2 separate regions of the Homo sapiens genome follow, and region 1 is linked to region 2. A link means that fine-mapping ties the variant in region 2 to the expression of a gene that starts in the linked region. Tissue or cell type: whole blood. Region 2 holds a variant in brackets; the other region holds the start of a gene. All regions are shown on one strand. Distances are from middle to middle.

Region 1 (5,215 bases), 32 kb before region 2:
ATCCTTGTTGAAATCTCCAGCTGTCCTAGAGTGGCCTGTGAGCCCCTGCAGTGGGCTGTGAGCCCCACAGGATAAGGCTCTGTAGCCCCCAGGCCTGGGGAGATAACAGGCCTGGAGCTGTACCTATGAGTGTTTGCTGAGTGACAAGCAAGGTGGTGGCCCTGCTCCATGTGGATGTGCCCAGACCCTGGAGCTCTAAAGTATCACATTAGGGAACAGAGACAAATTATAAGGTCCCAGAAGACCCGAGCCACCATGGGAAACGTTGGTGCATGGCTCAGCCAGAGTTCAGAGCACCCCCTGCAGGCTGCGGGTGTCTCTCAGTGACCACAGTGTCCTGAGGCCCAGTGACTTCCTGGGTGGAAACTGAGGCCTGGAGTGTTCCTCCCAGGGCAGTGAGAAAGAGAGAAATAGAAAATCCTTTGCAATGTGGTTTGTGTTACCGCAGCTTCAGCCATGGAAGGGGCTCCTTGAATTAAACAGGAAGCAGAAAATATCAGATTTAGATCCCACATTCCATGCATTGTATACAATTACGCGCTGGAGCCATAGAGGGGCACGTGGGACCCACAGAGGCAGAAAATGGGATTGCTGTTGGGAATGGGGTCGTTCTTTCATGGGAAACCAGTTGCATTCTTGACAGGTGGGCCGAGTCTTCCTGAGGTGCACACTTCACAACCCCAGGGGCACAGGTGAGGCCCTCTCATTTGCTTACAAGGCATTGGTGACAGACATGCTACCAGCTCCCACAATGATGGAGAGTCCCCTTCTCTGCAGCCCCCCAACACCGCTGCATATCTCTGGATTGTAGACCATCCTTGGTGGGCTCACCCCAACTCTCAGGCTCAACAGCCTCCTTTTTACCCATGACTCCTATGTCAGTCTCCAGCCCAGGTCGGCTTCCTGAGGCCCAGGGCCATAAACCCAATCGCATCAATAGGTCCAGCCCTTCAAACACTGCCTGTCTGAAACAGAACCCATCATCCTACCAAAAATATGCTCCTTCTCCAGGTGCCCTGCCACAGAGAATGATACCAATGTCCAGCCACTCACAAGAGCCAAACCATAGTGGTATCTTATCTCTTCCCGCCCACACCCATTGGATTCCCAAGTCTTGACCAACTCCTTCTCCTAAGGCCCTCTTACCCGTCCCCTCTTCTCCACCTGGGTGGCCATCACCCTAGTTCATGGGACCATTGTCTCTTGTCTGGATTGTTCTGCAGTCCAGCTCATCTTCATACCTTCAACATGCTCCAAAACCCTGCCCACGCCCTAGCTGGCCCAGCCACTCCTATGTCCCTGACCCTCTGATGGCGCTGTGTTGGCCTCAGGATCAGGCAAAGCCCTGGCCTTGGTGCACTAGGCTGTCCACACCCTGGCTCCTGCTGGCCTCTTCCCCCTGTTCCCTGGTGTTCCTATCCTGTCGCTAGGGCTTTGCACGTGACATTCCTTCTAATCTATTCTATCCATATTTCTTCAGGTTTTCCCTTGGACTTCAGCTCCTTTAGAAAGCCTTTCCAGACCCCCACCCACTCCCCATGTAGGAGGGCAAAGAAGTCCACTGAAGGCATCTAAAGTGTCTTATTCACTGTGTTTCTGTCTGTTGGATAAATGTGAGTGCAATGGTGACTGCTCGACTGCCTGGCACTACACTCAGACTCCTGGAATGCTGAAGCCTATACTGCTTTCTGTCCAGACCCTGAACTCCCTTTCTCTAAAGTAGGGCATGCCAATTTAAACAAAACACGGAGGACCATTTGCAGCCATGAACACGGCCCTGCAGACGGACAGGCCGATGAGCAGCAGAGCAGACAGGGGTTCCCGCCATCATCCCAGCTCTTCACTGCAGCCTTCAAGGGTCTCCCTCAGAACTTTCATTCATTGTCATACTTCATTCATGATTGCTCATCTTGCCTATAAACAAATCTGAGACAAATAATAAGGCATATCAATGTCCGTATTTATTCAAGAGATACATTGGGGAAAGTCATTTTTCAAAATCTTTTACTGTAGGATTTCTTCACTAAAATCTGTAAAAACTGGTAGATATTGTTGGTGATGCTGGTGGCGGTGGTTGATAGGCTCAGGAAACATGGCTGACATCGCCCTGCCGTGAATTCTGGTATAGTTAAGCCCAGCTTCTCTTTCTTTTTGTCACTGGGGCTCTGGGTGGAGGGAGTAACAGAACAGGGGCAGCAGTTTGCACCTTCTGCTGGCCCTGTTTGCAGACTCAGCTTTTCTTTCCCTGGGCTACGTTGGCAGGTGATACGATCTCTCTGTTCCTCACCCCATGGAGAGGTGAATCTAAAATGAGTGGGTCTGTTAGGGTCTGCATGTCTGTACGTTCCCCTTCTGAGGGGAACTGGCTCCTGGACCCCGTTGCCCTGCTCCAGCTGGGGACCCAAGTGCAGCCATCCCAGGCAGGCCCGGCCCCGGGAGGCCTCCACCAGGGCTCTGCCAAGCAGCAGAGGCTGCCTCTCTAAAGATCCCCTGTCGGGAGAGTGCCTGCCATTTATGGAGCGGGCAGGCAGTAGGAACCAGATAGGCGAGCTAGCTGGAGGCAGCAAGCTCAAGGGGACTGGGCTGCTGCGTGGCGTTCACTGTGCAGCTTGAAGAAGACCCCACGAAGCCTGGACAGAGCCCCAGCTTGGTAAATATTTGTTGACCGATCGGTTGAATGAAATGGTCTTGGGGCAGAGGGGGAGTGGTTTTGTAATGGGGACTGGCGGCGGAAACAGCAGAGTCCCGTCTCTCTAACGGCTAAACTTTAGCGCAAAACAGACACACCGATTAAGGTTCACCGTGTGCCAGGGCCAGGCTGGGCTTCTTCTAGGTGGTTGCGGCGGGCGCGGCTCAGCCTGGGTGCTCCGGAAGCTCCGAGCAGCGCAGGCCGACGGCGACCGTGCGGGACCCGCCCAGCCGCGCTTCCGCCCCGCCTCTGGCCACAGGCGCGAACTGCGCGGCCGCTGCCACCAGGGGGCAGGCCAGGGCAGCGGGAGGCAGGGCGGGGACGCGGTGACGCGGGCACTGCCGGGTCCCGTGACTGCGCGCCCCGCCCGGAGTCCCCGCCGCCGTCATGCAGTCCCCGGCGGTGCTCGTCACCTCCAGGTGAGCCAGACCCCCGCGCCCCACACCGCACAGCTCGCAGTCCGGGGCGCCCGGGCGGAGAGGCGGGGGGAGGCCGCCGCCTCCTAGGCCAGGGACCTGGTGCAGGTCTCCCCAGCGCCCTCGGTGGCTTATCCGGGCTGGGCCCCTGCACCGCCCTGCAGGAGAGGTGGCGACCCCGATTTACAGATGAGGAAACCGAGGCCCTCTGGAGGGTAGAGAACTAGCCAAGGACAGCGGGAGCCCTGGGACTGACTGGTTCAGTGCAGGCGGGCGCAGTGGGGACTCTGCTCTCCTTTCCTACCGCCTTGGGTTCTTCTCTTTTGAGCCCGAAAATCTAGTTCCCCATCCTTTCAGAGCTCCCTGAGTCCCAGGCCCGGTGCTGGGCACTGGGGACAGAGGCGAATCAGACAAGCTCGCCCTGCAGGGGGCTGCAGCGGAGAGGGGGTGATGCCAGCAGCGGGTAGTAAGCTCAGGTTGCCATGGGAACACAGTACAGGGCAGGAACCCGGTTTCTGGGAGGATGAGTTTGATGAGAGACCAGGGAGAGGTCGTTGCTGCTTGCGAGGCAGCTCAGGAGAGCGCAAGTTACAGCAAAAGCCTTGGAGGGGTCCAGGCGGAGGATGCAGAATGGGTCGGCCCTGATCGAGACCTGGAGGACCCAGCCCAAGGTGGATCCTGGCAAGGCTGGGAGGCACGTGCTTTTACTTCTTTCCGCCTTTAAAACGCTGTAAAGTGATTTACTTCAAATATTTTCATACACTTCACCCTTGCTCTCCCTACACAAAGTCTTAGGCTAAGATGCCAATTTATGACATAAATGAACGTGTTACCCAGCCAACTGTTGATCTTCCAGTTGTAATCAGGAATTCCCCGTGACTTCAGGTCTAGAAAGGTATGATTCCTTTTGTAAACCCTGATGTCGGAGGCTGCTTGGTCTTTCATGATCAAGTGTGGTTACAGTTGTATCTTCATGGGCAGAAGAGGTTTCCCTACTGCCACTTACGTCACCTCCTCTCACCAAGCCTCAGTTTCCTTTTCTGTGAATTGGAGGTTTCAGATTGGCAGGCATGAGCAACGTCAGTAGTATATGCCCCTCAGCCATGTGCAGATGGATGGGGTGTGACTTTGGTGCTGGGTGCTTGGGATGGGGTGGGTGGCTTCCCTCCCTGCCCCGCTGCACAGCCTGGACGTGGCTTGTTAACAGATGTGGGGGCGCTGGCGGTGGTAAGGCCACATGAGTCAGGCTCATTTCTTGCTGAGGGCACCAGCACACCCAAGGATCTTGCCTGCAGGGTGAGTCCAAACGCCTTAGCCCAGCAGCAAGGCCGGCCCTTCCCAGTCGCACCCCAGCTCCTCTTTCCAGCCCGATCTCCTCCCACATGTCATTGCCACATGCACTCAAGCTTGAATTCAGCCAGAAGGTGTTTATCGAGAGCCTTCTCTGTACCGGGTACTGGCCCTAGTTCTAGGAGACAAACAAGTCCCTCTCGTAGAGCTTTAATGAGGGCACAGGCCCAGTGGGCAAATCTACGACATGTCAGGGATGATACATGCTATGAAGGAAAACAAAACAGTGGGGGCAACAGAGTGGTAGGAGGCATGCATGCTGTTTTCTATGGTGTGGTAAAGAGGCATCTTTCTGATGGAGTGGCGCCTGGACAGATCCCGGACAAGCTCCATGAGGGAGAGAGCCATGAAAAAGAAATCTTGGAAAAGTGTGTACTGGGAGGACAGGACAGCAGGAGCCAGGGTCCCGAGGCTGGTATGCTGGAGTGGAGTGAGCCCAGGGAGAGTGTTAGGTGATGCGGTGAAGAGGCAAGCTTGGGAGTGAAGGATGATCAGGAAAGGCCGAGAAGGCTGTGGAGGGGCCATCAGATTTAATTTCAAGTGCAATAGGGCCCAACTTCTGGTTTATAGAGATCCTTTGGCTGCTATGCTGAGCATGGGCAGTGGCCGAGCTGAGCATTCAGGACAGGCTTGTAGGTTTCCATGTAGAGCCGGTGGTGGCTTGGCCCGGGGTGATGGCGGCCGTGAGGGTGAGAAATGTTTGGGTTCTCGATATATTTTGAAGATTGAGCTTTCAGGTTTGCTGATGCTTGGATATGGG
Region 2 (5,215 bases):
GCAGCCTCCTGTGTCCCAAGAGCAGCTATGCTGCCTCCCACCGTGGCTGACCACCCGTGTACACCACCCACCTGGGAGCAAATCCAGCTGCTGATTAGTTCCAAAGAGTCACTGCTTTGCCAAGCAGGCTAATCCTGAAATCTGACATAAGCCTCTAGCGGCTGCTTTATTTTCCAAAGGGCCCCTATTTGAGGATAATTCAGTCCCTTTGAGCTTTTCCCAGGTACCCTCAGCCTTCAATGGAGGCTGCATCATGCCAGTGGAGCTGGCACCTGCCCTGGGGGAGTCAAGGAAGGGCTGCCACTTGGAGGGAGCTCCGGAACATCTGACCTGAGGTGGCCAGGAGCAGACTGGCCATGAGTGACACCTCCTGAAATCACCTCTACCCCAAGACAGCTGGTCTGTCTATGAAGGCCCGGCTTGGGCCAGTCCCTCTGGGTTTGTTCAAGAAGGACACCTTTTATTCATTTCTCTGCCATCCAAACAGACTCTGAATTCTCTCTCTGGGGTTTGTGCCCCATCACAGGAGGTTGAGCCAGGAAGCAGGCAGGGTGTCCGGAGCTCCTTCCACAGCTGGCTCCAGGCAGGCATCCACCCCTGGGGGTGCTGTGCTGGACACCTCCATACTCACACAGGCTCTCTGGTAGTGCCAGGAGTTGTCCTGATCAGAGGTATCGCCTCTCTATCCCCACCCCTGCCCGGCCCTGCCCCAGGGCAAGAAGCCGCTGCTCATGAGCCTGCCTGGTTCTTCCTGTTCATTCTCATTCCCACCTCCAGACCTCTGCTGTCTGCTCCCTTCTTCAGAATTCTCTCCCCTATTCATGCCAGGCTCACCCTTCTGAAAAGACCCACCTTCCCAGGAGGCCTTCCCAGCCTGCTCTGGCCCAAGGGCTCACTCCCTTCTCTGGACTTCAACACCTTCTTTCCAGGCCTTTGCAATTATGTGGCCCCTGTCTGACTGGGCTGGGGGGTGTCCCTCATTGTAGGTGGAGGCACTGCTTTTCTGTGTCTTATGCCCACTTGCTCAGCCCCTGTGGCTGTCAGTAGACATCAGTACATACAGCCTTCCTGTACATTTGGAAACTACTTTCCTTGTGTTGTCTTATTTGATCCTTGTAAGAATCCCTGTGAGGATGGTAGAGCAAGTACAATCCCACTTTATAGAAGAGACTGAGGACCAGGGAGGAGGAGTGGCCTGAGGCTGCCTGATGGAGGAGTTGCAGGGTGAGGAACGGAAGCCAGTTCTCCTCCTGCAGTGCTGTGCTTCTGTGTACAGTTCCGTGCAGCAGTGCCAGTGACACTGTTACTCCTGCTTGTAGATGAGGAAGCCGAAGCTTGTAGAGACCAAGTGGGTGCTACAGGTCTTCTGCCTTCACTCACCTGATTCCAGCATGGCTGAGCGATAGACGTAGAGATGCCCGTTAGCACAAGGGAAAACCTCGCCGTGACACTGGAGTCTAGGTGCCCCAGCCAGGGGAACACACCCCAGAGAACCAGCCACATGCAGGCCAAGTCCTGTTCATCCTCACACTAGCTGTGGGTCTCAGGGCAAGGCCCTTTGCCTCTCTGCACCTCAGTATTCTCAGCTGTAAAACGGGGCTAATCTCTGCGACCACACAGTGTTTGGAGATTATTGAATGGGTTAATGAATGTGGAAATGTCTGGCCATCACGGGTGTTCAGCACAGAGCTGAGTGGGTGGAATGGATTGAATGAGTCTTCCACTGTGCATCTGGTCTCCAGAAATCAAGTTCTGGAGAATCAGTGGCCTGGCCTGTTTCTTGCCCTCAGTACCCAGGGATGGTCCTGAGTGACCGTAACACTGCCAGGGCTTTTTGCCCACCCACCAGTGGGAGATTAGAGGTCTGGGGTCATGACAGAGTCTTGGTGGGCCCTGGCCGAGGCCATCCTCAGCTCTCACTGGGTTCCGTCTGGCACCCGTGTGGCCCACAGCGGGGCACTGTGGGCGGGCCAAGCCTGTACCACCATGGCTCAGCGCCCCTGGTTATTCTTTCTCTGGCTGAACTTGCTTTGGATGAGGGCTCAGCTTCTAAGGGCCGATGTCCTGTTCCTTCCAACAAAGGCACTGTCACATACCATCCCCTCGAGGTCACTCGGCCTCCTGGGACTCCAGCGTCCTCATCTGCGTGATGGAAGCACAGTCATGCCTCCCCAGAGTGGCGTTTTGAGGATAAGATATGATAACGTGTCTGAAGTGCTGTACAGAGCGGGAACTCTGTACATAGTAGCTGGTGGTTATTTCTGAAGGGATTGGAGGGAAAGCCCCCTACAGAAGGCAGCGTGTGTCAAGTGGGGTCACCTGAAGAGCAACTCTCAGGAGGCTGCGTGGGGCCTGCCCTGTGCCTGCTTTGCTGTGGGTGGGAGGGAAGGAGAGCCCTGGCCTTCGTGTCTCCTCTGGGCAGGATGGGTGGAGGGGCCAGAGTGGAATGGGGCAGAGCAGGGCGGGGCCTTGACCTGGCCGAGGCTGGGCTCCCTGCCGCTGCCCAGCCCCGTGTGGGCACTGGCATTGCCTGGGGTCTTGTTCCTGTCACGGGGTGGCAGTGTTATGCTCAGGGTTCCTCCCTGTGGTTCCCTAGAGTTGAAGAGGACTTGGACCAGATTCTGAACCTGGGAGCTGAGCCCAAACCCAAGCCCCAGCTTAAGCCCAAGCCACCAGTGGCAGCTAAGCCGGTGATACCCAGAAAACCAGCTGTTCCCCCCAAAGCGGGCCCGGCTGAAGCTGTGGCTGGGCAGCAGAAGCCGCAGGAGCAGATCCAAGCCATGGA[C/T]GAGATGGACATCTTGCAGTACATCCAGGACCACGATACACCAGCCCAGGCCGCCCCCAGCCTCTTCTGACCCTTCCATGCTGGCCCCTGGCCCAGCAGGCCTGTCTGTGGGGACATCGGTGTGAAGGGAAGGGACTGGGCCCTGCAGGGTCAGAACCTCCCCACCCCCAGGGGAGGCCAGGCAGAAGCCTGGGTCACAGCACCCAGAACTGCATGGTTCCATTTTCTCCGGGGCTGTGGGGCCAAAGTAGAAGCCTGCGGGCTGCGGGAGCGGCTCTCACCCTAGGAGCCAGAGCCCAATGTGTCTTATTCCCCGTGGACATGAAGGGGAGGGAGGGTGTGGGGATGCCTTGCCAACCAGAAGCCCAGCCCCAAGGATGAAGCAAGACATGTGGGGCCGTAGCGAGGTGTCACATGGGGCAGGGAAGCTTCATGCCCACGGGTTCTGCCAGCCCCAGCACAGACCCAAACTGGGGCTGGGCCTCTATCCCTCCTCTGCCTCTGTTCGCATAGTAAGAAGGAGTGACCGGTATCCTCCCCTTCCCCTACCCTAAGCTGTAGCCTGGGTGACTGACTGGCCTGGGCCTGGGGTGGGGACGTCCCCAAGCCAAATTACTCCAGGGCCTCTGCTCCTCGTGGCTGCCAGGGGCCTGCAGGGTCTGGGTGGGTCTCCCAGGAGAGGAATACTGAGTGGGAGATCGGCTGTCTGGAGTGTTCTGATGCAAGTCTCTCTCTCCTGAGCCTCCTCTTGATGCAAGCTCTAAAGGGAGAAGTCAGGCCCTGCCTCTCCAGGGTATAGACGGCCCTGCTAGGCCCCAGTTCTTCCTCCTTCCCCCTTTCCCAGGAAAGGCCAGCCCAGTCCATGGCCTTCTTGGGCCTCTGGGCACAGAGCCAATGTTCGTCATTGCAGCTCTCAGCAAACTGGGTCATAGCTTTCCCCACAGCTCAGCCTGGGGCCTGGGCAGGGCTCCCAGCCTGCACCGCCTCCCACTGCCAGTGGGGCATGATTCTCTCAGGCTTCTGCCCCGAGGCCTTCGTCGTCCTCAGGGTCTGGACTTGGTCAGTGGCCTTTCACCAGTGGAGCTGCCTTCCCAGGGAGAAGGAGCCGTGCGCCAGGGCAGGGCCCGTGCCTTAGACTTCTCCCGACCCCCAGAGCGCTGGTACACAGGTCTAGGCACCACACAGTGCTTTGGAAATTCTCAGTGAATGATGTTTAATAAAGCAAAAAATGTCAAGGTGTCTTTCTTGGATATAATTCTTCATGTTCAGAGCTAGTTTTTTGTTTTGTTTTGTTTTGTTTTTTAATGAAACAGTAGTTTTAAAGGAAATGCAACCACTATTGCTCCTTGGCCCTGTCCTGCCTGGCAGAAGCATTGAGCGGGTGGGACTAGGACCTCAGACCCTTTTCTGATAGACACCAAAGCCAGCCCTGAGGGAGCCCCCGGCTGATGGTGCGGGTGGTTTGCAGCCATCAGTGTTGAGTGTCTCAGCTCCTGGCCCGTGCCAGGACCTGTCTGCTCTGTCCTGCATCTGATCACGTCCCTCTCCAGCTGTGGCGCCCTGTCCTGAGCAGCTTCCCCTCCACCAGTGCTAGAGTGAGAGGAAACAGGTGGTTTTGGGGTCGAGAGCTGACTCCCTCCTCCTCCGTCTTAACCCAGGCTCAGAGGGTCAGCTCCCTCCCCAGGGCTCTGAGCCAGCTCTGGGACAGCTCCAGCACCGGCTCCACCCATTTGCCTTCCCCCTTCACACCCGCCCCTCCTTCCCAGCACTCAGCCCCGGGCCCTGCATCCCTTGCTGACTGCAGCGGAAGGTCTCAGTAGGAGTGGGGAGGGGATGGGGCCAGGTCTTCCTCCGAGAGGTGGCTCCAGCTCTCCTCTGGGCTTTGTCCCCTCCCTGCCCTTTCTGCACCCTGATGCTGGCTCCCTGCCTCCTGCTCCCCACCTGCTTTGGGTCAAGTGACATAGGAGCAGAGGGCACAGCGGGGTAGGTGGCCACAGGGGCTGGTGCTCTGCTTGGGGTCACTGGCAGAACCTGGCCTGCCCGTTGTGTATTCATCCACTGTGGACGCCACCTCCTCAGTGGTCTGGACTCTCTGGACACCATCACAAAGACCCCCAGATATTGATGCTCCAGTATCTGTGGCTTGTTCTTCACCCACAGGACTGCGACTCATGGCCAATCAATGATCCTTGTCGCCTGATAAAGCCTGTGCCTGTGACCCATTCCAGCCTGTGTTAGTGATGTTCTTTTCTGTGCCTAGGCTGATGGCAGACCACCAGGGAGGGGAGAGGGGGAGAGGATTGTCCTTTAAAACAATGGACTCAGCCAGGGAAGCTGCCCTGCCCCAGTCACCCAGGCTGCTGCTTAGGGTAGGGGAAGGGGAGGATTCTGGTCACTCCTCACTATGCCAACCAAGGCAGAGGAGGCATA

Evidence for each region. PIP is the estimated chance that this variant, and not a neighbour inherited with it, causes the effect.
Region 1: HS1BP3 starts here. The variant in region 2 is fine-mapped to the expression of HS1BP3 in whole blood (TOPMed, PIP above 0.99).

Annotation. Positions count from the first base shown.
Region 1 is chr2:20,648,925-20,654,139 of GRCh38, reverse strand. HS1BP3 (HCLS1 binding protein 3) reads left to right here and starts at 3,042. Exons shown (of 7, transcript NM_022460.4): 1 at 3,042-3,108. The coding sequence starts at 3,077. It overlaps LOC105373466 (a long non-coding RNA gene), which reads right to left and starts at 2,858. Exons shown (of 2, transcript XR_001739320.2): 1 at 2,788-2,858; 2 at 1,940-2,165. RefSeq lists enhancers at 2,624-3,361, 3,446-3,595, 3,616-3,695 and a silencer at 2,776-3,365.
Region 2 is chr2:20,616,627-20,621,841 of GRCh38, reverse strand. It overlaps HS1BP3 (HCLS1 binding protein 3), which reads left to right. Exons shown (of 7, transcript NM_022460.4): 7 at 2,597-4,024. The coding sequence ends at 2,855. Among named protein-coding and RNA genes, the nearest start is that of HS1BP3-IT1, 27 kb to the right of the region's middle. RefSeq lists enhancers at 3,634-3,743, 4,128-5,019. The variant C/T (reference allele first, on the strand shown) is at 2,786.